Linked DNA regions of Homo sapiens. The protein of the gene in region 4 interacts with the protein of the main gene of each other region in a pairwise test. Each region holds a gene or a part of one and is shown on either strand. Other genes may lie near its edges. The genes, in order: ACAP1, GPATCH2L, LHX5 and SETDB1.

The links.
Region 1: the proteins of SETDB1 (region 4) and ACAP1 interact in binary tests that used the Homo sapiens proteins (3 or more experiments, as listed by UniProt).
Region 2: the proteins of SETDB1 (region 4) and GPATCH2L interact in binary tests that used the Homo sapiens proteins (3 or more experiments, as listed by UniProt).
Region 3: the proteins of SETDB1 (region 4) and LHX5 interact in binary tests that used the Homo sapiens proteins (3 or more experiments, as listed by UniProt).

What each region holds. Positions count from the first base shown.
Region 1 is NC_000017.11:7,346,241-7,352,768, reverse strand, and holds the end of ACAP1 (arf-GAP with coiled-coil, ANK repeat and PH domain-containing protein 1), read right to left. Parts: intron 6,526-6,528; coding exon 6,474-6,525; intron 6,379-6,473; coding exon 6,278-6,378; intron 5,962-6,277; coding exon 5,838-5,961; intron 5,739-5,837; coding exon 5,527-5,738; intron 4,848-5,526; coding exon 4,778-4,847; intron 4,643-4,777; coding exon 4,548-4,642; intron 4,464-4,547; coding exon 4,294-4,463; intron 3,775-4,293; coding exon 3,602-3,774; intron 2,825-3,601; coding exon 2,715-2,824; intron 2,643-2,714; coding exon 2,532-2,642; intron 1,820-2,531; coding exon 1,770-1,819; intron 1,475-1,769; coding exon 1,374-1,474; 3' UTR 1,292-1,373; downstream 1-1,291. UniProt on the Homo sapiens protein: GTPase-activating protein (GAP) for ADP ribosylation factor 6 (ARF6) required for clathrin-dependent export of proteins from recycling endosomes to trans-Golgi network and cell surface.
Region 2 is NC_000014.9:76,168,302-76,176,380, reverse strand, and holds part of GPATCH2L (G patch domain-containing protein 2-like), read right to left. Parts: exon of another isoform or gene 5,183-8,079; intron 4,539-5,182; coding exon 4,362-4,538; coding exon of another isoform or gene 4,351-4,361; exon of another isoform or gene 2,836-4,350; coding exon 2,756-2,835; exon of another isoform or gene 861-2,755; intron 1-860.
Region 3 is NC_000012.12:113,468,596-113,477,653, forward strand, and holds the start of LHX5 (LIM/homeobox protein Lhx5), read right to left. Parts: upstream 3,277-9,058; 5' UTR 2,904-3,276; coding exon 2,731-2,903; intron 751-2,730; coding exon 527-750; intron 1-526. UniProt on the Homo sapiens protein: Plays an essential role in the regulation of neuronal differentiation and migration during development of the central nervous system.
Region 4 is NC_000001.11:150,942,336-150,950,414, reverse strand, and holds part of SETDB1 (histone-lysine N-methyltransferase SETDB1), read right to left. Parts: intron 7,853-8,079; coding exon 7,727-7,852; intron 7,564-7,726; coding exon 7,362-7,563; intron 6,496-7,361; coding exon 6,422-6,495; intron 5,498-6,421; coding exon 5,307-5,497; coding exon of another isoform or gene 5,253-5,306; exon of another isoform or gene 5,095-5,252; intron 3,530-5,094; coding exon 3,403-3,529; intron 1,294-3,402; coding exon 1,137-1,293; intron 1,049-1,136; coding exon 890-1,048; intron 1-889. UniProt on the Homo sapiens protein: Histone methyltransferase that specifically trimethylates 'Lys-9' of histone H3. H3 'Lys-9' trimethylation represents a specific tag for epigenetic transcriptional repression by recruiting HP1 (CBX1, CBX3 and/or CBX5) proteins to methylated histones.

The DNA.
Region 1 (6,528 bases), on a different chromosome or scaffold from region 4:
GCAGAATTGGGTCGAAGCTGTCAGATTCGCTGGGTTGGAGGCACAGGTGGAGCACACCCAGTAAGGTTTGGGGCTCACCCCGGCTACTTTGGTGGTGGATGGGGAGGTGGTGTCAGGACACAGAAATCCCCAAAAGGTTGAGAGAAGAGATGAAAAGAGCAGAGGGCAGCCAGAGAGGGGAAGGGAGCTTGAGGTCTGGACGTATCCGATTTGGGGTGGTCAGCGACACCCCTCTGTGGTCTTCAGACAGTGGGTTTCCGGAATCCAACCAGCAGGTGACGGTGGCGAGCACAGGGCCGACTCTGAAGGGATGGCCTCCGAGACCCCGGGCAGATCGCTGCCGCCGTGGACGAGTCCAGCCAGGGCTCTGGGGCCACTCAGAGGCCTGGCCTGGCTGCCGGCGCGGGTCCCAGGAGATGGAGGCCGAACTGACGGGAGCGGATGGCGGAGCCCCCTTGTATCCGCCGGGGAGCGACGATGCGTGCTCAGCCCGGGCTGGGAGTGTCCGAGGGCTCTGATGGAAACAGCCAGGAGTTTCGGGACCCGGCCGCGCCGCCTTCCCTGGGTGTCGCCGCAGCCGCTGAGGTCCTCTCCGCCCCCAGGAAGTGGCCTAAGGGCAGCGGCCCGGGGCCCTTTAAGAGACAGCCCCGCCCCTTGGCGCCCCGCCCCCGCCCCCGCGAGGCTCGCGCGGCCCGGGCGGAGGTGGGAGGCTGGAGGCGAGTCTCGGACGCGAGAGACTGGGCGGACTGGCTGGACTGGCAGACGCTGGCGGGACGGGGTGACTCAGGCACGTCGCCCCGGATGTGGCCACGACCGCCCCGCCGCCGCTCAGGTGTGCCCGATCTCACGTCTGCAAGTCGGCGGGGCTGGAGCCTCTAATCCCACCGCTCAGAGCCCGAGGCCCGGCCGGCCCAGCCCGGGAGCCGAGTCCCTCCCAGCGGCTCCCCCGGGGAATTCCCGAGGGGGCGGGTGCTGAGCCGCCGCATTCCGGGGATGCCTTCCAGCCGGGGTGGCCCGGGCGCGCTCTCTCCGCGGCGGCGCGGGGCCAGCGAGCCCCAGGGCCAGCCCCACCCCTCGGCAGGACTGGGCTGGCCACGTCGCCCCAGCCCGAGAGCCCCCGCCCCGCAGCGCCCTGCGCTCAGGCCGCGGCCGAAGCTGCCGCCTCGCTCCCCGGAGTCGCACCTTGCTGGACTGGAGCTCGCAAACCCCCAGCTGCTCCCCGCACCTCGGGAGCCGCAGCGCCCAACACCCTACGGGCCCGAAGGTGGCGCCCAAGAAGTGAACCAGAAGGGAAGAGCGAAGCACGGAGGCTTTAATGGCAGAGGGCCCGGTGGCGGGGAAGGGAGGCAGGCGCGGGCCCCGTGGGCCTCGGGTCACAGCGTGTGGAGGTCATGACTGCGACGGCTCAGCTTCTCCGGGTCGTCTGACGCCATGAGGGAGAAGTCGCGGAAGATGTCAAGATACGTCTCATCTCCTGGGGGAGGGAGGAAAGGCCGGGAGGCGGCTGGGCCCCAGTGCAGAAGGGCAGGATCCGGCGGTTGGGGCCCACCTGGGGACCTCGCGCTCCGAGCCTGGGTGGGAACGTGCGCGCCGCGGGCACTGCGCCAGCACCTATGCCTTGCCAGGGCCTGGCACGTCGCATGCGCCCAATACGCATTTGTTAAATAACGGAATGAATGCAGCTGGGCACTAGGGAGAGAGGTCACCGTGGACCAGAAGCCCAGAGTTCAGGTGTTGGGCCTGGGGGGTGGGGTGGGTGTATTCTTTACCTGCCTGCCCCTGGGCCGCTTCAGCCTCCCTCATCTTTGCCAGTCGTAGCCTGAAGAGGAGGGAATTAAGAAATGAACGACACTATCTTTGGCCGGGCGCGGTGGCTCACGCCTGTAATCCCAACACTTTGGGAGGCCGAGGCAGGCGGATCACGAGGTCAGGAGATCGAGACCGTCCTGGCCAACATGGTGAAACCCCGTCTCTACTAAAAATACAAAAAATTAGCCGGGGGTGGTGGCGCACGCCTGTAGTCCCAGCTACTCAGGGGAGGCTGAGACAGGAGAATCGCTTGAACCCGGGAGGCGGGGGTTGCAGTGAGCCGAGATCGCGCCCCTGCACTCTAGCCTGGGCGACAGAGTGAGACTCCGTCTCAAAAAAAAAAAAAAAGACTATCCTCACCTCCCCCACAACTTCCCATCCTTTGAGCTGGGTTGCGTTCCGTTCATCTGCCCCCACCCCCGGGGTCACGTCTAGTGCTAAAAAGATGCCTGACAGCAATGTTGATGGGCGAATTACGCCTCTCAGGGTGGGCCAAGCATCCTTGCACCCTGCCCGCCCTCCCGCCTGCCTTCTACTCCACGTCCCAGTGCACACTTCGCGCAGCCTTTCTCGAGCCTGGCCCCGGCGCTGGCCCAGCCCCTTTCCGAGGCCCCACAGCACAGGCTTCTGTTTCGGCGTCAGCCCCGCCCGCCCGCCCGAACGTGGGTGGGCGGGGGTGGGGGGAGTCCCAGCGCCAGCCCCGCCCCTTCAGGCATTCTTACAGGGTGACGATGTCAGCGTTGGCTGTTTCCATGGCGATGGTCAGAGGGTCCCTGCCTTCAGAGTCTCGAGCCCCCAGATCAGCTCCCCGTTTCAGGAACAGGCAGGCGAGCCTGGAGAGAAGAGCCAGGGTCAGCCGGCCGCCCAACTTCTCCCAGCCTTCCTCCCCATGCCATCATCCCTACCCCGTGTGGCCAAGAATGGTTGCGTGGTGCAGCGGGCCCCGGCCCGCACTGTCCGCTTGGTTCACGTTCGCCCCGTTCTGGAGGAGAAACTCACAGGCCAGAAGAGAATTCTGCATGGAGAAGTCGAGAAGGGGGGTTGAGGGTGGCATCCCTAGTGGTGGATTTCAAGATGTCTTAGGGTGGCGCCAGTTCAGAGAATGGGAGGGTGGAGTGTGGTAATCAGGAGTGTGGAAGGGGTTACAGCTAACTGTAACCAAGCTAGGCTTGGCTCTAGCTCTTTGCATGTATTCATATATAAATCCATAGTACAAGCTTTTGAGGTATGTTACTATTTTACAGATGAGGCTGAGAGGTTAATAACTTGTTAAAAGTCTCCTGTAGGCCGGGCACAGTGGCTCACGCCAGTAATCCCAGCACTTTGGGAGGCCGAGGCGGGTGGATCACAAGGTCAGGAGATCCAGACCATCCTGGCTAACACGGTGAAACCCTATCTCTACTAACAATACAAAAAATTAGCCGGGCATGCTGGCTGGCGCCTGTAGTCCCAGCTACTCAGGCAGCTGAGGCAGGAGAATGGTGTGAACCCGGGAGGCGGAGCTTGCAGTGAGCCGAGATCGCACCATTGCACTCCAGCCTGGGGGACAGAGCGAGACTGTCTCAAAAAAAAAAAAAAAAGTCTCCTGTAAGAGGTGAGAGCCTGGGTTCAAACTCAGGTTCTCTGCCTCCAAATCACACACTCTTAGCAACCAGTCTCTATTGTTGATCTCTCCCTATGGGTGGAAGCCCTAGGGAACAGGTGGTGGGGAAAGGAGGTAAGGGCAGGGCCCAGAGTCAGGAGTAGGTGTCAGAGCCCTAGGGTGGGGTGGAGAGGTCAGCAGGGCTCTTACAGCAGCTGTGGCCTGGATCAGCGGTGTGGCATTATCTTGGCCCCCATTGACCCAGTTGACATCAGCTCCATGGGCAAGGGCATCAGCCATGGTGGGAAGAGATGGAGGATGCCCAGACGCTCGAAACAGTAGGGCCCCAGGGTGCAGGCTTCCCAGGTCCTCAGAGGGGGGCTCTGTTCGGGGGATTTGGTTCTGTTAGGGGGAAGCAGCTCCGAGTCTGGGAAGAAAACCCTCAGCAGTGTCCCAATGCTATAATGGGACAGGTCTCTTCTAAATGATGGGGAGCTTGGGACTGTGGAGGGAATAGAGTGATGCAAGTGTGGGTATGTGTAAGTATGCGTATGCATGTGTACGAGTCCCTAGGGTGTGGGGGAGAGACGGCATCATCACCTCATCTGGTCCAACCACACTTGGCCTCAGCTCTCAACCCCTGACGCTCCAGCCAAACCCACCCCCTCTCTCTCTCCTTTTCTTGTGCTGTTGGCACCCCTTACCCTCCCTGCCCACGCCCAGCCCCACATTCCTTCTCATTCTTAATGTCACACTCCACCGTAACCCCTGAAACGGCAGTCCGGTCCCTCCGACATTGTCCAGCGGAAGGCCTGGGCTTCACACTCTGTGCCTCCCGGCGCTACCTGGCACGATGCCGAGCACACAGCAGATGCTCAATGAATGCCCAACCAACCCTATACCTGGCTTGGATCTCAAGCTCCCTGGCCGGGGCCTGATGGAAGGCTTTGGGGGCACAGGAGGCTGCCCCCTTGGGCGCCCCCGGCCACCTCTTCGCCCTCGAATCTCAGGCAGCTTGGTCAGGAACTTCTTCTCCACGTATTTAGCGTGAATCCAGGCCTCCTTCTCCTGCCTGTGGGAGGGGAGAAGCACGCAGTCTTCCCTCTTCTGCTCCAGGGGTCCCCCATTCCCCTGGGAGGCTAAACCCCAAGCTCACCGGGAGCAGCTGGGCCCTGGTTTCTTCACTGCCATGGCCTCCACGCGGGCCTCATAGATCTGGTTGATGATGACATTTCCCAGCTCACACATGAGCTTCAGGAGGCCCAGGCAGAGGCAGAGACAGGGAAGGTGGGGGTGAGTGACTCCTCAGGGATCACGCCCCTGCACCGCCATGTCCTTGCCCCACCCCAAGTTCTTGCCCCCAATCTTCACAATACGCTAAGTTACCTTCACTAGTTCTGGCTCCCATGAGTCAAGGGTCAGAGACCGGACTTTGGAGAAGTGAACACCAAGGCTCCTGGAGGGCCAGAGGGGGAGGGTCAGGCCCTGTGCAGGGGGGCAGTGGCCTGGGGAGCTGCTGCTGCTCCTGAAGACACTGGGAGGCAAGGCTGGCATGGGGGCCCGTGCAGAGGTGCTGGCCCAGGAGGCAGGGCAGCTGCGGCCATGTAACCGCCATGTAGCCTTGACCTGGCCCTGGCAGGACTCTGCCTCGTCACCATTCCTTCTTCCTTAGGTTTCATTTCAAGGCCCTCATCACTCCAGCCACCTCCCTTCTCTAGTGACACTTGTGACACTTTGGCCTGGACAACCTCTCCCATGTCACCTCCCTTCCACCACACTGAGGTGGGGGGCGAGGGCCTTAGATACTTGCTAAGGCCTCATGACCGTTTCTCTGCCTAGTCTTCACTGGCTCCCCCACCCTCAGCAGCCTTGACCCCACACTTCTTCCAACCAAGCCAACAAATTCTGGGTATCCCCCAATTCTGGCCAGACTAGGACACAGAGGGGCTAGGCCCGCCTGGGTCCAACTGGCACCCCAGAGGCTTGGGCCCAGGCCTGGTACCCAGTGACAAAGCCAGAAGCTAAGAGAGGAAGCCAGGACAGGGAAGGAAGAGGGGCCGGTGTGATGCGCTCTGTATTGGAGCCGCACTGTGGCCCGAAGGAGTGGGGCTCCCGCATGGGCCTTGTGGAGTAACCTGTGGATGCCGGAACACTGAATGCAGAGGGTGACACCAAGGTTGATGCTGGCCCACTCCGGGGCTGGCTCCCGGCAGTCGCAGCACTGGGCATTGCCATCCACACTCTGGACCTGGGCCACCACGTGCCCGACTCCCCCAGGCTCCCTTCCCCTGGCCATTCCACCAGAGCCCAGGGTGGCAGCAGAGCCTATGGCCAGGTGTCCTGAGCCCTGGGGGAGAGAGGGGAAGAAAGGGTGGCCAAGGGGCCTAGGGTAAAGGGTGCCCCATCTCCACAGGCAGCCTGGCTCCGCACCCCCAGGTTAAGGTACCTGGCCTGGACCCCGGGGGCTGTCATCAAGGCGAGCCTGACTGAAGGCAGAAGCAATGCTGCTCTGCACAGCACTGACCCACAGCTGCAGGAGGCGCTCTGAGTCAGCCTGGAGGAGGCAGGACCTAGGTAGGAGGGTGAGGGAGATGGCAGAGGGGTCTGAGGCCTGGGAAGCAAAGTGGCAGCATGGGCAGACTGACATTCAGCCAGTATTCAACCAGTTCCAGTTGCATTGAAAGACTTCTGTACCAGTTGGTAATATTCTCCTAAATATCCCCCATCACCCTGTACCCTCTTCCACAATGGCCCCCCAGTCCAGCCGCCAAAGAATTAAATTAAAGTCTGGAGCTGCATGGGGGGCCTCCATTGTGGTGGGCCCTGCCTTTCAGATTGGCAGTTGTTTAGATATATTAGAGTATCACCCCTGGGGATTGCACTCACTTGCTGGTGGACACCACCTCAAAGCAGAACCGCCTTTCTGAGTCAGGGCAGAGTTTCACTGTGCAGAGACGAAGGTCATCCACCACCACAGTCACAGGGTCCTGGCAGGATAAGGTGATAAGGGGCCAGATGTCCAGCTGCAGGCAAGAGCTGAGTCTCCCTGGGGCCCAGGCATCCAGGACCCAGGTCCACTCACCTTGTACTTCTTCTGGTAAACCAGTTGGTTGCTCTGAATGGTGAACCAGCGTCTG
Region 2 (8,079 bases), on a different chromosome or scaffold from region 4:
ACACTGTTCACCATATATGGTATTTTAATAAGTACTATACCTCCTGTAACTACTGAAGTATATAGGAGTAAAAATCCTTTTTTAGAAAATTCAACAGTAGCCAATTTTTAACAGGCCAACACACCAAGCTTCCTAGAGAGCTACGTGATTTGATTATAGTTCCAACAGCCTTCATCCTGGGACATTACCAAATCCTCACTGGTAAAATGTAAATATCTGCTGACTAAATATAAATACATCAAGAGAATTTTGTGACTTGCAAAAATTGTTACTCTGTACTTTGTCCCTCAAACATCATCTCATGAAATAAAAATAGAAATTTGTATAAAATTGATTCCTAAATTCAGGGTTCTCAAGATTATAGTGTAAAAGCTTACCCATAACACCACAAAGAGTTCAGAAACGAACCATTTCCAAAAAATTGGAAAACGGCAATTCACTCTTCATTTAACTTGAGTACATTCACAATGCTTACCTACCATGGCACCTGGGAAAGCATACCAACACACATCTGAGTAACTGTTGTGTTGAGAGAACACAAGTCACGGGCGTGAATGCCAAGAACATCAAGGCTGTTCTTCAAACACATTTGTGTCTATATTCATCTATGTGTGTGGACCGTGCTAAACATCAGGCTACACATTTCAGCAGAACTGGCTGTAGAAAAATTACTCTGAGGTCAGAGTCCGGGCGGTAGTGGAGTTAAATGAGAAGTTTTCATATACTATATTCTTCATGTTCTGCATTTCTTATAGCTATGCCTCCTGGTCACAGACAGACATGGTAGGGGGGCCAAGGGAAAAGATGGGTGAAAAATGAGCTATTTGTTACAGCAGAAAAATTATTAACTTAAAGTGCCGTAATGTTTAAATTTACAGTTTATTACTGTGTAAATTACAAGCAGTACTTTGTGTAATTAGCAGCTCACTGGCAGGGAGCTGTGAATGAAACTCATTATTTATGATTACAATTTAGAAAAGCAGAAGAGAGATGGGGGAGGGGGAAGAAGGGGGGCAGAGCGGTGACCTCTTCTAGAAATGATAAATATCCCTTTAAGGTGATGAAGATGAATTAAACAAGTAAATATTATCCTATTCATTTGAAATCATTAAAGGCACATCCAACAGGCCCTCACTCCCTTCCAGGCAAGCTAAAGGGAAACCTTCAAGATAAAGTGACTTGTTTCCATGGAAGTGGATGGCTCTTATTTTATAAGAGCTGAAAGAAAGTAACACAGGTGGCAGGGGGAACATTATCTGTCAAGCCTAAACAATAAAAGTAAAACCTCTCCTTCTTCCACCCCATGTACTGCTATTCTGCTAGCTATCCCTGTTAACAATAAGCTCCCAAAACAGAAAAAGCAGCGTTTTGTCTGTAAAATGAGTAATTTGAAAGGTATCAGTTTTCCAATAATCAAATGTCTTCTAATTCAAGATTTGAACTTGAGGCCGGGCACGGTGGCTCATGCCTGTAATCCCAGAACTTTGGGAGGCCGAGGCGGGTGGATCACCTGAGGTCAGGGGTTTGAGACCAGCCTAGCCAACATGGTAAAACCCCATCTGTACTAAAAATACAAAAAAATTAGCCAGGCATGGTGGGGCGCCTGTAATCCCAGCTACTTGGGAGGCTGAGGCAGGAGAATTGCTTGAACCTGGAAGGCAGGAAGTTACAGTGAGCCGAGATCGCACCATTGCATTCCAGCCTAGGTCACAGAGCGAGATTCCATCTCAAAAAAAAAAAAAAGATTTGAACTTGAATTTAAAGATAAAAAGAAATAAGAATCTTGGGCTCGTCTGGAAATAAACAGTCTCATTTCTTTTGCATGCTTAAAACTTCAGAAAACTGTTCCCTGGTCAGACTATAAAACAGTATCCCCTTAAGGGAAGCCAGACTGTGGCACATATTGTGCCACCTAGCAGGCATTCTAAATGCTTACCAAGTGAACAAACAAATTAATGCTCTCAATGCCTCTCCCTTCCTTATTCTTTGCCCACCACCATCTTCTCTGACTGAGGATGAGCCCTGTCTTAATTTATTCCTCAATCTCAAAGTAGAGTAAAAAATAAAATTCAATAAAAATGTAAAAAGATAAAAGTAGACCTGGGTTCAAATCTCTATTCTACCATTCCTATCTGGGTAACATCAGACATTCCTTAACTTCTTCGAACCTAAGTTTTCCTCATCTGCTGAAGGTGCTTGCCCTTGTAGGTTGCTGGAAGGATTAAATGAGCTGAGTCCCTAGTACCATCCCTGGCAAAGGCAGAACTGAATAAACAGCAGATAGTTCTCCCTCATGGCCAAGGAGGGGCTCTTGAAACTCAGTAACAGTTTTGTTTTTTTTTTTTAATGAATTCTAGGATGAAAGACCAAAATTAGGAAAGAACAAAGATGCATTCATGAATTCAAGAGGAGTCATAAAGAAGCCAAGAGTATTTTAACTTACACAATAATAACATAACATTAATCAAAAGTTACAGAAGACACAGCTCAGGCTTGTAGGTTTACAGGCAATAGACACTGTAATGACAGTGTTTTTTTTTTTTGTCAGTACTTCTATATGAATTACGTTTCATCTTTTATTTGTATATCCATTCACATTCTACATAATGTTCACTCTTGTAAACTCCCAACACATTCCAGTTGGCTCCATTAACTTCAGGGAGTTCTGTAGCACCTCTGATTGTTAATAGGATACACAACTCCCATAGGGAATATTATCTCCCCACTGAGCCAAGCTAACTGTGAGAGGTATCACCTTCCCAACCAGCCTTCTTCGCCCCTTTCTGAGGCATCGAGCTGCAGCTCCAGGTAGACGATTCAAGCGAGTATGGTACCCTAAAAAAAGAAGGAAGGCCTCAGATACCGAATGCAGAAAATCCATATGCAATCCTATGTTTCTAGTACACTGAAGGCTTTACCCCCAGGATCTTAATAGATTGACCTTTAAACTAGCATCACAGAGCTATTTGCCAAGGATTTATTATTCCCAGGTCTTTGTCACTAGCAGTATGATCACAGGCATGCCATTTACCTTTGACCTAGGCATCCTCCATCTATAAAAGAGGGATAATCACTCAGTCCTACCTTACTGGGCTGTTTTGAAGACCCAATGAAATAGCAAGCAGAAGGGACTTTATAAACTGAAAACACCACACAAACATAAGGTACTATTAATAATTTTTAATTTAAAATTAAATGTTAGTTTGTACGTCAAAAACATTCTAATTCATGACATAATGGGGAAAATAGCACGTGTCGGATAACCCAATTTTTCTCACTGCTGCATGTGTTCTACACAAGGAAAGAACAACTGGAGGAAACCACACCAAAATGTTATTAATGAGATTGTCTCTGGATATGAGATTATAGGCCATTTTAAGTTTCTTCTCACTATTCTTGCTTGTTTGTATATATTTTAAGTGGTCCATTAGAAACTTTTAGAAATGTTCATCAAAATGTTCAATAAAGCAATGTGTGCCTCAGCTAGTCTTTACCAAGCACCAACTGCTGGTTCGCCATGACAAAAATTCACCATGACAAACAAAAATTCACCATGACAAAATCCTACATAATACAAGTTTACATCTCGTAGTGTGATTCTGATCACCCACAGATGTTCAACAAACTCTTGGCAACTGATTAACTGGTTGATTATGGGTTACTGGGAACCCTAGAATCATAAATTTATAGTGCTAAAAGAAATGGTTTTGTCCAATGTCACATATCGTAAGTGATGACCCTGTCATCCCAGGAAAATGCAGTGACTATCACAGAGCTTGGTAGACAGTATCAGAGTATTAGCACCACATTTCCATCTCTCTGTCCTAGGTTCTTTCCACCCACTTTGCTACATCATAATTGAAGAAAAAGCAAAGGGAAAAGGAAACATATTTGTGTTAAAGTCCCAATAGGGTCATTAAAATAAAACTACTTAAATTATTTTAAAAGCATCCGTTTTAAAAACACCATTATATGTGAATACTCTTACTGAAAATAAGAATATGTATGTGAATGTTCTTATTGAAATCTGTTCTCTTCCAAAATCCGATACTCAATAACCTCTTAGTTTCACATCAGGATAAGCAGCTGTCACTAAATCTGGCACAAACGGCAATGGCAAGCTGAAGGAATCTCCTGATAATATATATGTCCCAGGAGTTTCCATGGATTAGTTTAGGAAGGAATGGAGAGAACCTTAAGCTTTGAGACTTACTTTGACTCCTCTAGAAAATCCTTGAGCTAGCTCCAAAATTCAGATAGTTAATGTGTGATTGAAGGCATGAGTATGCTTGCTAGGGGGTGATTGCTCTGCCCAAGGAGAACCATAAAAGCATTAAGTTCTTGGTCTCCTCAGAACTCACCTCTTTGAGCTGGCCGAGAAGGTAAAAGGAATGTGGAATCTGAAAATTTATCCAATCCAGAATCCATTCTTTCTACTTCAGAACAATGATCAGGAGCCCACTTGGGCAGAAGATTAGGGACAGTGAATCCTGGGACACATTCTCCTTCATAGAACCAATCACTCTGTTCGTCATCACCTAAAGTAAAGACATCATATCATAAGCTAGAATTTTAAACAAGGTCTGAGAAAAACAAATGGGAGGGATGATTTCTTAGTGCCATAGTTTTGATCATCCTTTTTTTTTTTTTTCCTTTTTGAGACAGAGTCTTGCTCTGTCACCCAGGCTGGAATGCAGTGGCGTAATCACATGTTCAGGCAATCCTCCCATCTCAGCCTCCCAAGTGGCTGGAACCACAGGCTCATGCCACTATGCCTGGCTATTTTTTTATTTTTTTGGGGATGGATTCTTGTTCTGTTGCCTAGGCTGGAGTGCAGTGGCGTGATCTTGGTTCACTGTAACCTCCGCCTCCCCTCCCGGGTTCAAGCAATTCTCTCTGACTCAGCCTCCTGAGTAGCTGGCATTACAAGCGCCCGCCACCATGCCTGGCTAATTTTTGTATTTTTTTAGTAGAGACGGGGTTTTGCCATGTTGGCCACGCTGGTCTTGGACTCCTGACCTCAACTGATCCACCCGCCTCGGCCTCCCAAAGTGCTGGGATTACAGGCGTGAGCCACCGCGCCCAGTCTTTTTTTTTTTTTTTAATTCTCTGTAGAAACTGGGTCTCCTTATGTTGCCCAGGCTGCTCTTGAACTCCTGGGCTCAAGCAATCCTCCCACCCACCTCAGCCTCTCAAAGTGCTGGAATTACAGGCTGATTATACTTTTAAATAAATCAAGGCATTGTTCTGGTCCTTCTTGATTCATTTTACAATGAAAACTGGAACACCAACCTGGTTTCACATAAATGTCATACTGTGTTAGACTGGACCGCTTTAATAGCTAAAAATAAATAAATAAAGCTACCACTCACTAAACCCTTACAACCTACCAGGATCCATGCTAAAAATCTGTAAATATGTCATCTCTTCCAAGCCCTACACTAACTCCAACTTACAAACAAGGCAACTAAAGCCTAGAGAAGTCAAGGTCAATTTAGTAAACAATGAAGCCAGGATCTGAACCCAAAGCCTGACTAACTCAAAAGCCTGAGATCTTTATTACAAAAACAAACTGCCTCCCCTATACCATTCTCAGTGGTATAAACTTGGAGGTTCAAAACCCATAAATGTTTCTCAATTCAAAGCTAGCTATACCTGAGGGATTTCTTGCTATATTTGCCTTTATCATAAAAGGTGAATAAAGAATATATGTCCATACTTCATTTATCGTTGGTATCTCATTAATGGGACAGAAATCATCTTGACACTAGAAATCCAAGCTACTGCGGAAAAAAAAAATAACCACAGCAACAAATAACATAATCCCCTAAGGCTTTTCAATAAGTTATACCATTTTCCCAAGGCCATTTGTTAATTAACAGCAAAGTCACAACCAGATCCATATATCCAGACTGTTGGTAGTACAAACTTCTTTCTACTGGCTATAGTGATAGTATCTCAGTTTCCACTAGAGTTTATTCCTGCCAACAAAGAATAGATAATTGTATGTCTGCCACCACATACCCCTTGCAAAATAGCAAAATTGAAGGAAATTATTACAAGAATATCTAAAGAGTTCATAATGTAGTCAGTCTCTAATGTACACTGGATTCCAGACAAGTTGCTCAGAAATGTCAATCCCATGAAGTATGAGATTCATGGGTCATTAACACGCAGGATAATAACTCTTAAATCACTGTGGAGATCTCCAAAATGGGCAATGAAAACTGCATTCTGGTGAAAAGCAGGAGATATTACAACTAAGAAAGTTACTCAAAGTGTTCCCTTATAAAAACACACCACAAACAGCTGTCTCTCTTACAGTAGTTCTCAACTTTGAGCATGCATCTGAAGCAGCAGGAGGGCTTGTTAAAACATGGACTGCTGAGCCCTTACTCCAGAGTTTCTGATTCTAGTCTGGGCAAGACCAAAAATGTGTATTTCTAACAAGTTCCCTCATGATGCCAAGCTGGCCTGGGGACCACGTTTTGAGAACCGCTACTCTAAAAGCATCTCACGAAACCAGATACATAGATGAACTGAATACAGGCATTAGTGTATAATAACTAGTTTCTCTGTACTTCAATATATTAATTCTTTTCTTATTCATAAGCATTCCTTAGGCCATTTATTGAAATAGTATATTTAATTAGGCCATGTTTTCTGACGACAAATGGCAAACTATAATGGAATTTTTTTGGTTCTCAAGCAGTCATTCAAGATTTTTAATAATACAAAAAGGGACTCCCTGAACTAGAAGGAACGTTGTGAGACCACATAGACCAGCAGTCTTCAATCAGGGTTCACTAAGATGCCTGATAGAGGAGCTCCTTAAAAGAGCGCTGCCAGGGAATAAGCAAGAAGCTAGGTGGATCGGGCTCCTGACCTCTGGCTCCTCTAGAATTTTGCTTTAAACCAAATAGGCTTAGTTGTTTTACAATCTGAGAATCTATGTTCGATTTTGTTTGGGGGAAAAAAAGGAGAGTTTTCCCCTTAATTGGATTATAAATAATTATTTATTAAACATTTACTATATGCCAGGAACATGCTAGGTACTGTGGTTGCACATAATAAGTCCTGCCTTGAAAAGCCTCAAGGGAAAAGACTCGTACCTACAAACAATAACATAATCTAGTGAGTAGTAAAAGAAACAGTAAGTATAATACAAGGAGCCACAGAGAACAAAGGAGAAAGGGCTATTGGCCAGAACCCCCTCAGCAAACACATGGCACATTTAAATGGGGTCATTGCAGAGATGTAATGAAGTGACTATTCACAAAGGTGGAGACAGTACTAACAAGGAACCCCACAAGGGGATAGTGAAGCACATCAGGTGGAGCCAGCACAGCAGGAGGCCCTTACCATTCCTAGACTTGGAGTGGCAAGGGAAAGAATGGTTATCAGAACCCAAAGAACTGTGGTTATAAAAGAAGGCTGCCAAACAAGAGTGGTGGCCCTCAGCAGAGGAACACAACCACTGCCAACCAGCAATCCAACAGAAAAGGTGTCAGGGAAAGCAATAATCTAATGTGGTAGACTGCATTAGCATTTCCAAGTACTCTCTATAGCAGAATCATCCATCCATGACGTTTGCTCTTTGCCATTGGATTCCACAGTACCTTCCCTTTTAGGAAGAGCACACTTACTCATCCTACTGACTCTGGGCTTGGTCATATGACTTGCTTTACGTAGTAGAAAATTAACAGATATGATTCAAGCAAAGGCTTTAAATATGTACTTGTGGTCTAGCCTGGTCACCTGGCATTTACATCCTCTGCCATAGGAAGTCCATGCCGCCTATCATCATTGCTCCTCCACCCTAGGTCCCAAAATACAATACACTGAGTAGATGTAAACCTAACTTGAAGCCTGTAGACCAGTGGAGCCCAGGCAAGATCAGTGGAACCACAGACAACTCACAGCCCCATAGCAAGAAATGAGTATGGTAAACTGTGAGAAGCCACTAAAATTTGGGGGCTGTTAAGCAGCATTACCACAATAAATACTTGACTAATATATCCAATATCACTCACCTCCCTCCCTTTGGTCTTCTGTTGATGCCTCCTATAGGCCAACCCC
Region 3 (9,058 bases), on a different chromosome or scaffold from region 4:
GGCTGGGCCTTTGGAGGGGCGCTCTTAAGCCCTCTCCGCGCGTCTCAGCTAGTACCTGGGTAAGGGTAGGGGGACGCGTACCCTCTGGAGAACTCCCACTTTCAAGGAGAGGGGACAAGGAGGGCACAGATTCCCTTGGGGCTTGGATCTTCCTCTCTCTTCCCTCCTCTCTCCAGACCTCAATTAATGTCCTTCCAGTGCATCAAGAAATTACCTGGAGCTCAAGTGACACATAAGGGGGAATTGTGCGCTTCCAAATTAGGGGAGGAGGGCAACTTGGAAAAGGCTCCTGAATTGGAGGAGGGTGAGGCAGAGCTGGCAGGTCTCAGATCCCCTGTAAAACCTGCTCCAAAGCCACTTCTCTTCTCTAGCCTCTAACCCCCTTGCCTTGCCCTAGAACTGCCTGGGGCTGATGAGCTCCAAGCTCAGCACAGACAGCACACCGGGGGCCAAGTAGGGAGTGCCAGGCTGGGCACGGTGGGAGGGTGCTAAGGCCTAAGGCTAGTGAGGGGCCCAGGCTTCCTACCTGAGTTGAGGCTGCCCTCCTTGAGGCTGGATGAGCTCAGGTAGTCGTCTTTGCACACGAACTTGTTCTCGTCGATGACGTAGAGCTCCTCGCCGGTGGACAGCTGCTTGTTACACACCATGCAGGTGAAACAGTTGAGGTGAAAGACTTTGCTCCGGGCCTTGCGCACCAGGTCGCTGGGCGAGATGCCTTGCGCGCAGCCGGCGCATTTCGTGCCAAAGCGCCTGTGGACACAATGTGCCTGTCACTATGGGGTGGGACTGCATCCAGCCCTCCCCAGCCCCTGACCTCTTCCCACCCGACCTGGCTTCGGTGAAGTCCCCATTTCCATATCTGTCAAACGGAACCCCAATCCTGAGCGCTCTGGCCAGAGTGGGAGAAGTGGGACAAATGTCCTGAGCTGCTTTTGGGACTGGGACTGCCATGCCTCCACTGGGGCTTTTCAGACTCTCCTGAGCTGGGAAGGGGTGAGCAGTGGGTGCAGCCTTCAGCCAAGAAGAGAGCCCAGAGCACCCCAAGATGTCCTCCCCCAAACCCAACCCCTGCCAGGCCTGCCTGGGCTGCTCCAGGCAAACTCAGAGTCCATGAATGATTTGAAGCCAGGCGGGGAGGGTTTGGGCCACTTGGTGGCTCTGCCTCCTGGATCCTTTCTAGTCTGCTGCTGCCTAGCTAGGGCCAATCTGCCTGGCTGGCTGAGCCTAGCCATGAGGTGGGGAGCCCTTCTCCTAGGCTGGAAGGAGGAAGCAGAAAGGAGGGAACCTTCCACTGATTTCCAGTACCAATGGAGAGGCTTTCCAATCCACCGCTCTGGGACCCGCTGGAGCTAATCAGGAGCTGTGGACAGCAGGGCCTCATAGTGATGGACCCTAGAGAGCAGGGATGAGTTTCAGCCCCCCTAAACCTCTGGCCTGGCAGGCAGCAGGGGAATGTGAATAGAGGACAATCATAGATCCTGCAAGGCCAGGACAGGAATCTCTCAAATCCCCGCTTTCCCGCGTTCCTGATCTCATTCCTTTTCTTTCTTCTTTGAGCTCAGGGAGAAAGCCAGCCTCCCCCGAAATAGGAGATGGGTGAGGCTCAGGTTGGGGGTGGGGTGGGGGAGGACCCAGGACTCTAGGGACCCCACATCTACTCACACCCATGTCTCTAAACAGGGCGAATTTGGGTGACATTGATGTAGTGAGGGCATTAGAAGCCATAAGTCACTTTTGGCCTTATCCGGCAGCGTAATTGGCCATATGCACCTTATCAAAAATCATTAGGCACTTTGCAAGCACTGCTACATTAGGGGCATCGGGCCTCCGGGTCCAGGGAGTTAACACGTGTAAAGGAGCGGCTGACATTTTCTCCCATTCAAATTCTCAGTGCGGAGTCGCTGGGGCCGGCAGGCTGCCTTTCTCTGTGGCGTGATTCACGCCCCCATTCCTCAGCGCGGGGAATTCCTGTTCACAAAGCCGGCTCTGGGTGCCCAGAGGAAACAGGTAGGGCTCAGCTGCCCCAAACTCCAGTGGCTTCCAGGCTGGGGAAACTGAGGCCCAGAGAGGTGATCTGCCCTGGCCAGCCACAGGGCCCACAGGGGTAGGGGGGCTGGGGAGGTGCCACAGCCCAGTCTAGACCCCAGAGGTCCTGATTCTCAGCCTCGATTTCGTTTCTACTTTTCAACATGGGAGGAAATGTTTAAGGGGTTGGGAGGTGGGTGGGGGAGGTTCTCTCCTCCCATCACCAGGGGAGACCTTCCTCGCTGGGCCCCCTCTGGAGCTGAGAAGTTTCTGTTTGGGATTGCGGCCGATGGGCTCACACATTCTGCCTGGAGCGAGAAGCCTTCAGGCGTCTCTAACTCATGCAAAAATCCTTCCTCTCTCTCGGGACGGGGCTTGAAGCTTCTGTCTTGGGGTTGCAGCTGCTTGGAAGGGGCGGAGAGGAGTGGATAGCAAGTTTGTCAGGGCTTCCTCCCTCTGCCCCGCCAGCGCTCTGAGCCGGCCTCGAGCCAACGTGAGGCAGCGAAGCAGCGTCCTTCTTCCTCCGCCTGGGCTCGGGACCTTTCCTGGACCAAGGACAGGAGGAGAGCAAAGTGCTGCCCGCTCCCCATCTAAGCTTGTGATCCGGGGAGGCTGGGATGGGGATGGGGGTATCCCCTTCCCCAGCGCCCCAGTGGAGCGCGCGCAGGGTGGGCGCGCAGGCAGCAGAGCGGCGCGGCCTCTTACCTGAAAAAGTCATTTTTGCAGTAGAGCTTGCCCTCGCGCGAGAAGCACTTCTCCGAGAGGTTGGTTTTGCACTCGCAGCACTGAACACATTTGATGTGCCACGCGCGGTCCAGCACGTTCAGCAGAAAGCGGTCGAGGATGGGCCGCTCGCAACCGGCGCAGTGCACCATCATAGCCCCGCGCCCCGGCGGCTTCGGCCGCCTTGCCCTCCCTTTGGGCCCCTGGCCCTCGGGCCTGCCGGGCCCTCCGCTGCCCTTCGCCTCTTGTCTCAGCAGCTGCAGGGCGAGTCTGGTCCGGACCAAGACTCAGCCGGTCCAGTCCTTGGGCAATCTCTGGCCTGGCGCTGGGCTGCCCGGAGTGGGGTGGTGGGGGGCGGGTGGCGTTCACAACCTCATGCCACGGGCCGCACGCCCCGGCGCCTGTTCCGGGCTTCCCCAGGTATCTCGGGTGGCTGCTGGCCTCGGCGCTGCGGAGCGGCTTTCCCCGGTGGCGGAGGCGCCGGCACTTTCCCCCACTTTCAAGCGGTCCGGATCCTCATCTTTGTCTGGTCGCCGCGTAATTCGCGCATCCTTATTCAGATTTGGTGACGTGGCGCTGCACGTAGGGGGCCCAGCGGCCAATGGGCGCACCGTGGCCATGGCAACCTCTTAAATTTATAGCATATCTAAATTGGCTACAGCGTTGCTGTCCGGACAGAGCAAAAAAAACAAGGCATCAGTATTGTTGAGTATTAGCTTGTACCTGGTTCGGAGGCTAAGTAAGTATTTACCTTCCAGTTTGGGGCTGACGGGGCGGGGGCAGCGCGAAACGAAAATTGCGTCTCTCTTCCTCTCTCTTTCTCCTCACAAATATTTGGGGGTCACGGGTTCCAAGGCCTAGTCCGGGAGGTACCCCTGCCCCCTTCGCCATCCCTGGAACTTGCAGAAGTTGCCCCACGCCCCACACTTCGCTCCCCTTCTCCAGCCCAGCCAGCCCAGATTGGATTCCCCCACCCCCGCGCCCCCTCTGCGCCCTGAAGCTGCGTCAGCGCGGTTCTCCCGGCTCCTGGAGCCGGCCCCGGCTTCTTTTTGTCATACACGGGGCTGGGGCCCAGCCGGGCCTTTCTCATGGAGAGAGCTAGTGGAGACCGCGCGGCCTGGGTAGTTTTCCCCGCCCGGCCGCCGAGCCCAGGCCCAGGCCCAGGGTGGGGAGGCGGGGGAGCAGGAGGGGTGCCATTTGGCCTGGTCCCGAACTCCAGAGTTTCAGGCCTGAGTGCGCTGCTCACGGGGCTCTGAGGGAGATGTGGACAGGGGGAGATTCAGGGTGGACGGGTCTTCCCGCAGACAGCTCGGAGGTGGCACTCACCACGTCTCTCCTTTCCTCGCTGCACCTTCCAGATTCCAGGTCAGCCTATGGGGCACTGTGGTGAGTGGGTCGTACGGCTGAGGCGGGGGACACCAGCGACTATGAGAGCGCTGTTTGTATTCACGCCGTGCGGGCTGGGTGTGCAAGTTCGTCCCCTCATTGGGCGCAGGAGAAGCGGCGCACGTATGTTCCGTGCTCGGCAGGGCGCCCAGAGTGTGAGGAGAGAGAGTGTGTGTGTGTTAAGGGGGAGGGGGGATGTTGGCAGGTGTGCGTGAGGAGGGGGTGTGTGGGTCTGAGTAGGAGAAGGGACCAGGCCTCCTTTCCCCTGGGGCCAGCGTGGCCACCAGGGATCCTAGTTGGGGAAGCCGGGAATGGGCAACCAGGATTTGCCTTTCGCTTCTGGAAAGGGGGCTGAGGGAGTAGGGCCTGGGACCAAGGGCTGGAGCTGGAGGGGTTTGTGCCAGCACTTGGCTGTGAATGTTTGTTTGGGTGTGTTTCCTGAGCTTGTTAGTGTATACTCGCTGTTTGAGAATTCCATTTTTGCATCTGTTTATTGTGTTAGTACCATCAATCCTGTGAGTAAATTTCTGCGTGTGCGTTTTCGTGTGTGCAGATTCGTGTGTTTGTAATTGTGTATGGTCCTGCTAATGTTTGTGTTTATCACTGTGTGCACTTTTATTTTTGTTGGTCTGTGCCTATGTGTGTTTGCTTATTTGAGGATGCATAAATGTGAGGGTGTTTTCATGTGTACGTGTGCATTCACGTAAGAGTGTTTGTGTCTGTGTTTGCAAGCATTGATGTGAAGGTGTACTTTGAAAAATCTGAATGTGTGTGTTTGTGTGTAGGTGAGGGCGTGCATGCTTGAGACCCTGTGTGTATGAGACTGAGCTGGCTTGGTTGTGTTTGTGAGTGCAGAATTCTGAAGAGCTATGTTTGTGTGCCAGTCGCTGTGTGTGTGTGCCTGCAAATGTGTGTATTTGTGCAAACAGTAGTTTTTTGTTTATGCAACTCCTGTAGGCTTTTGTGTGTGTGTGTGTATGTGTGTGTGAGGGGGTTATGTTTGTATTTGTGTTTGTGTGTGTACTCCTAGCTGCGCTTACCTTTGTGGATTCGGAGGTTGAGGGAGCAGGATTTGTGGATGCCTGTGTTGGGGCTCAGGGATGCCCACTTGTCCCCCTTCCTCTCAGGCCTAGCACTGTCCCCCACAGTATCTAGGGGAGGTGATCTTGCTAGGGACAGGGAATTGGTGAGTGCTGGTTACAGAGTGGAGCATTGACTCACCAGCCAGCCCGCTGGAAAAGGAATCCCTAACCCGGGCAGCTTCTGCTTATTGGTGCTGTTACCTGACCCTCTAGCTTGTCAGGGGACAGGCATCTACAGAGCATAGTAGTAACGCTGGTTAGAGCCCAGCTCAACCAGGAACAGGCAGGATGAATCTCACTTGGCCTCCTAGGCTCGGCCATGAGAGACTTCAAATGGAACTGCAGTTTCTGGCAGCACTTGGCCCTGCCCGCCTGGGCTTAAAGGATCCTTGAGCTCTGGCAGGGGCAGAGCTGGAAAGAAATAAGAACCCGAAGAGGAGAGAGGTGCTCAGGCTCCCGGCAGAGGTGAACTGTACTGCCTTCTCCGTCTTTGTCTCACTAGGCTTTTTCTGTCTCTCCCGAGTTCTCACCATATCTCTTTTCCTTTCTGTCTCCGTTTTTCTCTTATGCTCAGAATCTGTTCTCTTTCTGTTTCATTTTCTCTTGGTTCTCCCTTGTTTTCTTTCTCCATTTCTCTCTCTCTCTTTTTTTTTGTTCTCCTCCCCTGGCCTCTCTGCTGGAGCTTCCAAATCCAGCATCCGACTCAAAGCTGAGATGAATGCTCCTTATTTTGCATCGTGCAGATTTTGGGGTGTGGGGGGAAGACTTGCACCCCCACCACGTGCTTCATGATCATTCAGAACCTCCATCCAACCACTTTCTTCTCTGCTCCAGACTAGGCACACTGAGCCCATTCTCCCCCAAACCCCACAAAATATGCAAAGTGCCCTGTCTGGTGTGTGTTTCCAGCCCAGGCTTTGCCCACCCATTGGTGGTGGCTGGGGGCCTGTGTACCCAGCTCTATCTGAATCTCAGATCCACTAGTCCTCATCTCCCAGAGAGCTTCAATGCATAGCCAGGCTCTAACAACCGTGTGGCCAGGCCAGGGAGGTCGTAGGAAGAGGGAAGAAGATGAGAGCAGCCCTGAGTAGGGATGAGCGTCAGTCACCTGGGGCTGGATGTTTGGTTGCAGGAGATGAGGACTCTGTTTCCAGAAGCCCTGGTCTGATCTTCCATCTCTTGTAGGGGAACTCACCAATCCTGCCCTTGTTGCAGTCCCCTAGAGTTGCGTTGGGGGCCTCATCCTCAGTACAGCTCAGCCCCAGTTCGAGAACTCCCTGGACCTGGGCTCAGCCAAGCTGCCCAGAACCCGCCCGGCCTTCTCTAGCCCACCACCTTCCCCGGTGCACAGCATCGGAAAATGCCAGCAGACCAGCTATTAGACTCATCCCGACCTAACAGCGCTAACAGATGGCGACCAGGCAGCGAAATCCCCTCCTATATGTAACTAATAAACCGCTTGTGTCTTAACAGGGTAATGCATGGAGACGCAATGTCACTTATACAAGATGTTGATGGAATTTACTATATAAAAATCTTCCTCCTAGAGTAAAGAGTATCAACATTACAACTCGACAGACGGCGGCGGGATAAGTAAAACAGACAAAAGACAAACAAGATAATAATCTGTTTCCAATCACTTAAGCCCTGTAGAGTTAGTAATATGCGGTTTGCATATTCCCCCTTGAGTTCGGTAATTAATTACTGGCGAGGAGGCGCACACTAGCCTGGGGTGGGAGTTTTGGGGAGCGCTGAGCTGGGGCGTGGGGCATACCTCTCTTGAGTTCTCCAGCCCGGGACACCGGGCAGCGGCCGGAATGAGGGCGCTTCCAGAGGTTTGGAGCTGACCCACCCGCGGGTTGAAGAGGTCGTTTCAGTTGCACCTCCCTATTCCTCACCGGAAAGCCTCCGGCCTGGGAGATTCTGCAGCCAAGCAGGAAAGGGGGTCTTCTCTGGCAGCCAGTGTCTCTCCTGGCTCCTCTTAAAGCATCCTCTCCTTCGAACGGCCGGGAGTGGCAGCTTTATTGGGAAACGCGCGCTCTGGGGGCCCAGGTGGCTGGGGGGACCGGAGAGGCGCGCGCTTTGCCCACTTCTCTTGGTGGCATCTTGTGCGACCCAGCCCGTCCTCTCCCGACTTCGATCATTACCGCTCCCACCCCAACACGCATACTTCCCCCACCCCACCCCCAAGAGCCAGCGCGGCTTTAACATTAAACAAACGCAGCGAGCGCCTCCGAGCTGCGCTCTCGGCCGGGTCTGCGCGGCGGCGGCGGCGTTACAAATTGTAAATTTAAATTGCTCGCCGGATTCATTACCTCCCCTCTTTGATTTCAGCCAGCCGTGAAAAATTATACTGGTGTACCACTGAGAAACTGTTTTGCCGCAAAGAGCCTACGCCTAATCACTGGCTTTCTCCCTCCGACAAAAGTGTAATTATTTTGTTTGGGGTGTAAATATAGGCCGCGCCTCGCACACACACTCAGCGTCCCGCAGCGCCGCAGAGCACCGCCCGCCGCCGGAAGGAATCGGGCCCCCGAGTAGGAGCGGGCGTGAAGGCTGAGCCCCGCTGTCTGGAGGCCGGAGGAGAGCGGCTGGTGTGGCGCTCCGGCGAGACCCAGCGAGCCCAGCCTCTGCCCTCCGCAGTTCGGGTTTGCCCGAGAACCTCGGGACCGCGCGCTCCCAGGCGGGCCAGAGAGGACGCCGGCGGGGTGCAATGGGTGCTCAGGCCTAGACATCCGGGCAGGGATGCGAGAGGGATGGCGGGGGTGGGAGTGGGGTGGGTGGGGGGTGGTGGTGAATTTTCTGGGGAACCCTTGGGGGTGGCCGTCTGAGAGCGGCCCGGAGCCCAGGCGGGGAGAGTGTCCTGGCCTGGGTGGAACCCTGGGAGGCGGGGGCGTCGTGGCTGGTGTGCCCCACTGGCGCTAGGCCGTGGATTGCTTGGTTTCCAGAACATCTCTGCGGGGCGCAGGGCCTTCCTGTCAGTTGAATCGTGCTCGGCTTAATTAACGGTCTCGTTAACTGGGCAGGCCCGACCCGGGACGTTTAATCAAAAAGGCAGGGAATTCCTCCTCCCTCTCTTCTCTCCTCCTTCCCTCCCTCCCTCCCCCTTCCCTTTCTTTTCCTTTTCGTTTCTTCCTTCCTTCCCTCCCTCCCTCCCTCCCTCCCTTCCTTCCTTCCTTACATCCTTCCTTCCTTCCCTCCCTCCCTTCCTCCCTCCCTCCCTTTCTTCCTTCCCTCCCTCCCTCCCTTCTTCCTTCCTTCCTTCCTTTCTTCCTTCCTTCCTTCCCTCCCTCCCTCCCTCCCTCCCTTTCTTCCTTCCCTCCCTCCCTCCCTTCTTCCTTCCTTCCTTCCTTTGGAGAGCTGCAGGAAGTGGGAATTAAACAATGGCATCTCCCACCAAGTTTTCTCCCTGCCCAATCTTCCTCTGCATTCACCCCCCAGCACAGGAAAGCAGGGCTCTGAGTCTAAACTAAACCCCAGTCCAATATCCGGGCTGGAACTTTAAGGGGGCTTCCTGTGGGACCCGGCAGGGGTGGGCCAACTCTGAGTCAGACTTCTGGGGCTGTAGCATCAGGGGCCCTAGCTAGTGGAAGTCCACTGGGCCTACTACCCCTCAGGGGACAGGCCCTGGATCTTGGTGGTTGGAGCAGGTGGAGAGGGCAGTGGCTGAGATCCAGCCTCCAAGTGAGTGTGTGCGCTGGTGAGTGCCGGCCAGCTCAGAGGTCTCTCTGGAGTGAGTGTGTGCGCTGGTGAGTGCCAGTCAGCTCAGAGGTCCCTCTGGAGCTGCAGCAGGGCGTGGGTTTCCCTCCTTCCTTACTGCAAGCCCCTCTCCTGGAATGCAC
Region 4 (8,079 bases):
CTCTGTTTTATAATTAACCCTCCAGGTAGCTAAGCCATTTCTCTCATCTTTCAAACAGCTGTGCTCCTGAAGCTAAAGATGATTCAAGAAAGATCTTCCCTTGCCCTACCAAACCTGGACAATGAAACTCCCTGGTTACTCTTCACTGACTGATAACATCTCTATTTCTCTTTTTTTTTTTGAGACAAGTTTCGCTCTTTTTGCCTAGGCTGGAGTACAATGGCACGATCTTGGCTCACCACAACCTCTGCCTCCTGGGTTCAAGCGATTCTCCTGCCTCAGCGTCCTGAGTAGCTGGGATTACAGGCATGCGCCACCACGCCTGGCTAATTTTGTATTTTTTAGTAGAGACAGGGTTTCTCCATGTTGGCCAGGCTGGTCTCGAACTCCCGACCTCAGGTGATCCACCCGCCTCGGCCTCCCAAAGTGCTGGGATTACAGGCATGAGCCACCGCGCCCGGCCTAACATCTCTATTTCAACAGTATACCTTTTCCTAAAATGTATTTGCCTGTGAATTATGGAAGTAGAATCCAGTCTTCTACCAATGTTTTTTTGGTCTGCTGCGTGTTCTAAAAATGTCCTTACTAACTCCAAGGAAAGAGGCTGTGGTGTTTCCTTTCTATTTTAGCAATGATGGCACCATGTTCAACAAGAAGTTTTAACAAATGGCTTTCAGATGATACCATATTTCCAAGCACCCAGCTTCCAATTCAATTATTCTTACTTTCTATTTCTTAGGAACTTCTATGGGTAAAGCTTCCTTTTCAAGTCCAAACTCCTCACTATCATAAGCTTAAACTAAGCCCTTCGCTTACAGCCAAGGAACCTTCCCCTACACAGTGACCACTCATTGCTATCCTGCCTACAGAGAGCCTCAGATTTTCTCACCTATATGTCTGGTTGATCCCAGGTTTCCCACCAGAGACATTTTCACTGAGTGCAGGAGATGTAGGGGAGGAATGACCAGAGCCCACAGATCCTGGTCGAAAGGACGTGCTCTTTTTGGCTACCTGCTTCCGTGACTGGGCAAGCTGGCTTTCCAAGCTTCTAGGAGATTAGAGAAGAGGGCATATAGTAAGGGATGTGGAAAATATAATATGAAAGAAACTGAAGAAAAAGAAAGAATAACACTCACTCACTGTCACCTGCTTGGGGGGATAGAGGTGGAGCAGGTGGGAAAGGTGGGGCAGGTGGAGCTGTAGGCTGTGGGGGTTCCACTGGCTTGAACTGGGTTCCAGTACCGGTCAGATCCTGTGTGTACTGGACAACAGGGCCTTTGCTCCTCACAGCACCTATAGGAAAAAGGAAATTGAGCACTGAGAAGATGATAGCTATGACGCTTGTATTCAGTCACACATCTGATCCTTAACTTATACAATATAAAAAGGAAGCAATGGCTGGGCGCAGTGGCTCTTGCCTGTAATCCCAGCAGTTTGGGAGGCCGAAGTGGGCAGGTTGCTTGAGGTCATGAGTTTGAGACCAGCCTGGCCAACATGGTGAAACCCCGTCTCTACTAAAAATACAAAAATTAGATGGGCATGGTGGTGCACATCTGTAATTCCAGCTGCTCGGAAGGCGCAGGACAATCACTTGAAACCAGGAGGTGGAGGTTGCAGTGAGCCGAGATCACATCACTGTACTCCAGCCTGGGCAACAGAACAAGACTTCGTCTCAAAAAAAAAAAGCAGCAATGGACACATTTTGAGTAAGTGCTTAGACTCTCAGTTCCCATTATTGACTGGCATGGACGCTGGCATACATTGTTTTTTGACTTAGATAATACTTTTTCTTTTATTAAAGTGAAAGCAAGTTTATTCACAAAGTAAAGGAATAAAAGAATAACGGCCAGGCGCGGTGGCTCATGCCTTTAATCCCAGCACTTTGGGAGGCTGAGGCGGGCAGATCACCTGAGGTCAGGAGTTCAAGACCAGCCTGGCCAACATGGAGAAATCCCGTCTCTACTAACAATACAAAAATTAGCCTGGCATGGTAGCAGTCGCCTGTAACCCCAGTTACTCGGAAGGCTGAGGCAGGAGAATTGCTGGAACCCGGGAGGCGGAGGTTGCAGTGAGCTGAGATGGTGCCACTGCACTCCAGCCTGGGCAAAAGAACCAGACTCCATCTCAAAAAAAAAAAAAAAAAATTGCTACTCTGTCGGCAGAGTAGCCTCTTTTTTTTCTTTTTATAGACAGTGTTCCACTTTGTTACTCAGGCTGAAGTGCAGCGGTGTGACCTTAGCTCATTGTAACCTTGAAATCCTGGGCTTCAAGCAATCCTCCTGCCTCAGCCTCCAGAGTAGCTAAGGCTACAGGTGCACACCACCACACTCAGCATTTTTTTTTTTTAAGAGATAAGAGTCTTTCTATGTTGCCCAGACTGATCTCCAACTCCTGGCCTCAAGTGATACTCCCACCTCAGCCTCCCAAAGTGCTGAGACTACAGACACGAGCCACCATGCTGGGCCTTAGATAAGACTTTATATCTTCCTATCTCAGATGATTTACCTAATTATGTTATACTTTGGGGAAATATTTTCAGAAATATATTCTTTAACCAACTAATTTTGGCAGGAAAAATCAACCAGAAAGTATGACAGTAATATTAAAAAAGAAAACCAAATCTGTTTTTTGTTTGTTTCTGAGACAGGGTCTCGTTCTGTCACCCAGGCTGGAGTGCAGTGGCACGATCTAGCTCACTGCAACCTCGACCTCCTGGCTTCAATTGATCCTCCCACCTCAACTTCTTGAGTAGCCTGGACTACAGCTTAATGCCACTGTACCCAGCTAATTTTTGTGTTTTTTTGTAGAAACAGGGTTTCACCATGTTGCCCAGGCTGGTCTTGAATTCCTCAGCTCAAGCAAACCACCTACCTGTCTCAGCTTCCTAAAGTGTTGGGATTATAGATGTCAGCCACTGTGCCTGGCCAGGTCTGGGTTTTAAAGAAAACTGACTATACGCTGGATGTGGTAGCTCATACTTGTAATCCTAGCACTTTGGGCAGCCGAGGCAGGTAGACAGCTTGAGCCCAGGAGTTCAAGACCAGCCTGGGTAACATATCAAGCCCCGGGTCTATTTAAAAAAAAAAGAAAAAGAAAAAACTAACCATAGATAACACACAAAACTGACAATTCTCATGTGGATAACAGAGGGTAACTACTATCACCCTAACCTAAAGCCAACTGTTTCAGATTTTTATGTGGTTGTTTAGAACAAATTAGAGCCACAGCATGTGGAAGCAGCAGCACAAATTGATCACCATGATTGGAAACAACTCAGGGCACATATCCTGTTTCCAATGAGTATACAGTGTAACCATGCTAATCAAAGGATAGCCATTGTATATAATCTCCTTTGCTGGTTGGCCTGTTTCTTCCTTCCTCCAGGAATCTTTCAGGACATACCCATATTTGGACGTGTCCTGAGCTGTCCTTGCTTCTTCTCCAGTGCAGAGGCTGAGGATGTTTTCATGCTGAACATGGGCTCCAGCCGTGTAGAGCCTCGATAGATCCACTCACATCTTTTGTCATCCTGGGGAATTGAGAGAAAAGAATGAAGGGAAATAGCTTAAAGGCTAGAATCTATCCTGTCCTGTGTAGAGGATATATACCATGTGTCACCTCTGGGAATCCTCCCTGATGAGCCTTAAATTCCTTAGTCTAAGCTAAGCACAGTGGCTCACGCCTGTAGCTTGTAATCCCAGCACTTTGGGAGGCTGAGGCAGGTGGATCACCCGAGGTTGGGAGTTCAAGACCAGCCTGACCAACATGGAGAAACCCCGTCTCTACTAAAAATACAAAATTAGCCGGGTGTGGTGGCGCATGCCTGTAATCCCAGTTACTCGGGAGGCTGAGGCAGGAGAATTGCTTGAACCAGGGAGGCGGAGGTTGTGGTGAGCCGAGACTGCACCATCGTACTCCAGCCTGGGCAACAGGAGCGAAACTCCATCCCCCCCAAAAAAAAATTCCTTATCTACTTAATAAAGTATGTGCCAGGATCCATGATGGGTATCAGGAACACAACAATGAAAAATATATACTCCTTGTTTAAGGAATTACAGGAGCAACAGATATCTATACTGAGTATAAGAGGTATGACAGCTGGGCACAATAGCTCACACCTATAATCCTGGTATGTCGAAAGGATGAGGCAGACAGACTGCTTGAGCTCAGGAGTTCGAGACCAGCCTGGGCAACATGGCGAAACCCGTCTCTACTAAAAATACAAAAATCAGCCAGGTGTGGTGGCATGCACTTGTAGTCACAGCTACTTGGGAGGCTGATGTGGGAGGACCACTTGAACCCTGGAGGTTGAGGCTGCAGTGAGCTGTGATTGCACCACTGCACTCCAGCCTGGGTGGCAGAGTGAGACTGTCTCAAAAAACAAAACAAAACAAAACAAAACAAAACAAAACAGGCCAGGCGTGGTGGCTCACGCCTGTAATCCCAGCACTTTGGGAGGACAAGGCAGGTGGATCACTTGAGGTCAGGAGTTCGGGACCAGCCTGCCAACATGGTGAAACCCCGTCTCTACTAAAAATACAAAAAATTAGCCAGTCCCAGCTACCCGAGAGGCTGAGGCAGGAGAATCACTTGAACCCAGGAGGCGGAAGATGCAGTGAGCCGAGATCGTGCCATTGCACTCTAGCCTGGGCAACAAGAGTGAAACTCCGTCTGAAAACAAAACAAAACACCAAACAAAAAGCATGATAAGGATCATAAGGCCTTAGAAGTAACGGGCTGAGGTAACACCAAGAAGAAATATAACTTCTAATTTCTTCTGGCTACTCTGGGCACACTGCCTATCAGGTAGCCTTGTTCTGCAAGCAGCAGTATTAAAAAATGTTTTTAAAACTTTTAAAAATAAGAAATATGATTCTAAGAAGGGAGAGAGAAGGGAGAAAAGGATGAGTACAAAATACCTAAGAGTTAAACTGAGCCTTGAAAGATAATCAGGACTCCTTGATCCCTCTTCTTCGTCCCACTATCCTACTAAAACCTTAACCCTGGAAAAATGGAATTGGCTGCCCTTTCTGTACCTACACACAATGTGAATACTCCTAAAGAAAAAAAATAAATAAATCAAAACCATGCAGATTCGTATTATAATTCAGATAATTTATTTTCAACAATGACCTGCAGAGGAACAACAAAAAGGGCAAAGTAAAATTTGACCAAAAACAGTGAGAACACATACGAGGATAAGAAAGAGGAAGGCTATGGAATAGCTATAAAACCATCCTCATTACTGCTTCTTAAGTTCCCCCCCCACCAACCTCTGCCTCCAAAATTGTAGAGAAGAACAGTACCAGGAAGAGGATCCTGACTAGGCTGCCATCCACCTCCTCAACTCGGGACTTCCACCACGTGCCTTCCCACTCAGTCTTGATAAGCTGGCCACTCTTGAGCAGTACCATGGGGCGGTTGGGGTAGGCAGTGACATACTCCTCTATGAAGTCACGGCAGGAGATGTCTTCTATGTCCTCCCAAGTCTTTTTCACTGTTTCAAGGAAGAAGTAGAACTGAGAGGGCAGGTAGGGCATGTCTTGATAGGGAAAAGACTTGGCCAGGAGACATTTGATACTTTTTAAGTTGAAAAGGAGAGAAAAAGTAAAATCAGAACCTCAAGGGAAGCAAAGCCAAGACCACCTAAGTAATAAACCTAATGTACAAACTGTACATACTTACAAATCAAGTAAATACTAAATAAGAAATGTACAATATAGGTGATTCACTTATTTTACACAAATGGATGTTTCTCCTCTGGAAAATTCAAGTGGAAATTCTTGCTCACTTGTTGATCAGTCTAGTGGTAAATTTAAAAAGATCAGGTGGCATCATGAAATGAAAAAAATTAGTCCTTCCTTCTCATTCTCTATCAGGTTTTTAAGAGACTCAGAATGTGTTTACTGTCATGTTATGTGTAAACAAAAGTGTTAGTTGATTCTTCTGCAGTTAAAAATGATTGTTTCCATAGGAGTCTGCTCCCAAGCCAGGGTAACAAATATAGTGGACACTATGAGGTTCCATCTAACACAGCTTCTGTGGAAAGCATTATGCAGACTACACATTTATACAAATGTTAGGTGCAGTATGACACTAGGAAAGAAGTAACACCTTTTCCAACGTAACTCACTTAGAAATGAAATTGAAGCACATCTATAACGTGAGCAGTCTACTCAAGGCCATTCATGATCTTCTAGTGTCTCACTCTTTGTCTACAAAGACCCAGTCCTGGAGATGAACAATAAAACTGTATCTCTTTTGGGAGCAAACTGACCTTTGGGAGCAAAAGACATCAACCAAACTTATGCTCTTTGAGACTGAAATACCAAAAACACTAGGGCTTTTCAACTGGATGTCCTAAGAAGAAATACAAGGTAGAGGAGAAAACTGAGCTAAGGAATAAGGGAGAAACACTCACGTGGCCGGCAAATGGGATACAGTTCCGACTGTGTGACATAGGAAGCATAGCCATCATCAAAGAAAATGAGAAACCTATAAAAGAAGAGTGACAGCAGAAAGATCTGGGGGTTATGATATTTAACATGATCCACAGAAATTATTTTATCATAGCTTCTACTTCTCTGGATCACAACACGATGCACTCCAGGGAAGACAATCCAGTCCACTACTTTCTTCCTGTTTTTCTTTCTTCTCAACTTGAGAGTTAGGAGTTCTCCCTTAATTTAACCAATACCTCCCTACTTTTAAAAAAACACATATACATATAAATATTTTTGAGACGGAGTCTCCTTCTGTCGCCCAGGCTGGGGTGCAGTGGTGCAATCTCGGCTCATGGCAACCACTGCCTCCCAGGTTCAAGGAATTCTCCTGCCTCAGCCTCCCAAGTAGCTGGGATTACAGGCATGCGCCACCACACCCAGCTAATTTTTGTATTTTTAGTAGAGACAGGGTTTCACCAGTTGGCCAAGCTGGTCTCGAACTCCTGACCTCAGGTGATTCACTTGCCTTGGCCTCCCAAAGTGCTAAGATTACAGGGATGAGACACTGGGCCCGGCCAAAAAACATATATTCTTTTTCCTCTATCAGATTCCTATGCTGCCAATAACCATTTAGTCTCCATTTCTTTCTTCTGTGTGAATTGTATTCCCCTGACCATTAATCAATCCTCATTATTCTCTTCCTAGTTTTCTCTTTGAGGAAAGAAAAGGAAAAAAAACAGGAGGAGAAAGAGGAAGAAAGAATCACCCACATGACTCCTGTGGTAAAGAAAGAGTAAGGGTTTCAGTCCACTGGGGACTAAGAAGACAAAAGCTAATTGTGGTATCTGGTCTATGGCACGAACAGGGCAGGTGCTGTGCTCCCAGCCTCTACCCCTTTACAGTCCTCTGTCCAGGTACCTGAGCTTGTTTTTGACGTTTGGTGTCTCAGCTACAATGCCAGCATAGAGCCAGACCTGATTCCCATCTTTGTATTTGGCGACCACCCGACTGCCCACATACAGCTTGTCAGCAGGAGGGTGGTAATCATAGGCAATATGGTTCCCCGACAGTAGACTCTTTCCTTTGTTGTCAAATTTCACCTTGTATTTCTTCCCTGGCCCTGAGTAAAAGGGAAAGATAAATCTTTTTAAACACTGCCAGTTTCTGTATAAATCCAGGCTGCTATGTGAGAGACAAATGGGAAGGTTATGGGGAAAAGAAACAATCAGCAGTGGAGGGTGCAGGTTGCCTTTCAGGAGTGGTTCCTCCAAGTTTGCACATACCAACTGTCTGGATGGCAATAAGGGTGCCTTTGTGCCAAGTCTTAGTTCTCTTCTTGCCCAGAATTCGCATGCTGACTATCAGGTCACCATCTTTGCTTAGTTCTCCAGACATCTGACTCAAGGTTCCTATAGAAGAAGCAAAGTTATTCTCAAGAGTTATGACATAGATTCGGTAGAGAACGGGAAGGTAAAGAGGGTAGTATGGTAATTAGGGAAAGTGGGGTAATTTTTTTTTTTTTTTTGAGATGGAGTCTCACTCTGTCACCAGGCTGGAGTGCAGTGGTGCGATCTTGGCTCACTGGAACCTCCGCCTCCCTGGGTTCCAGCGATTCTCCTGCCTCAGCCTCCCGAGT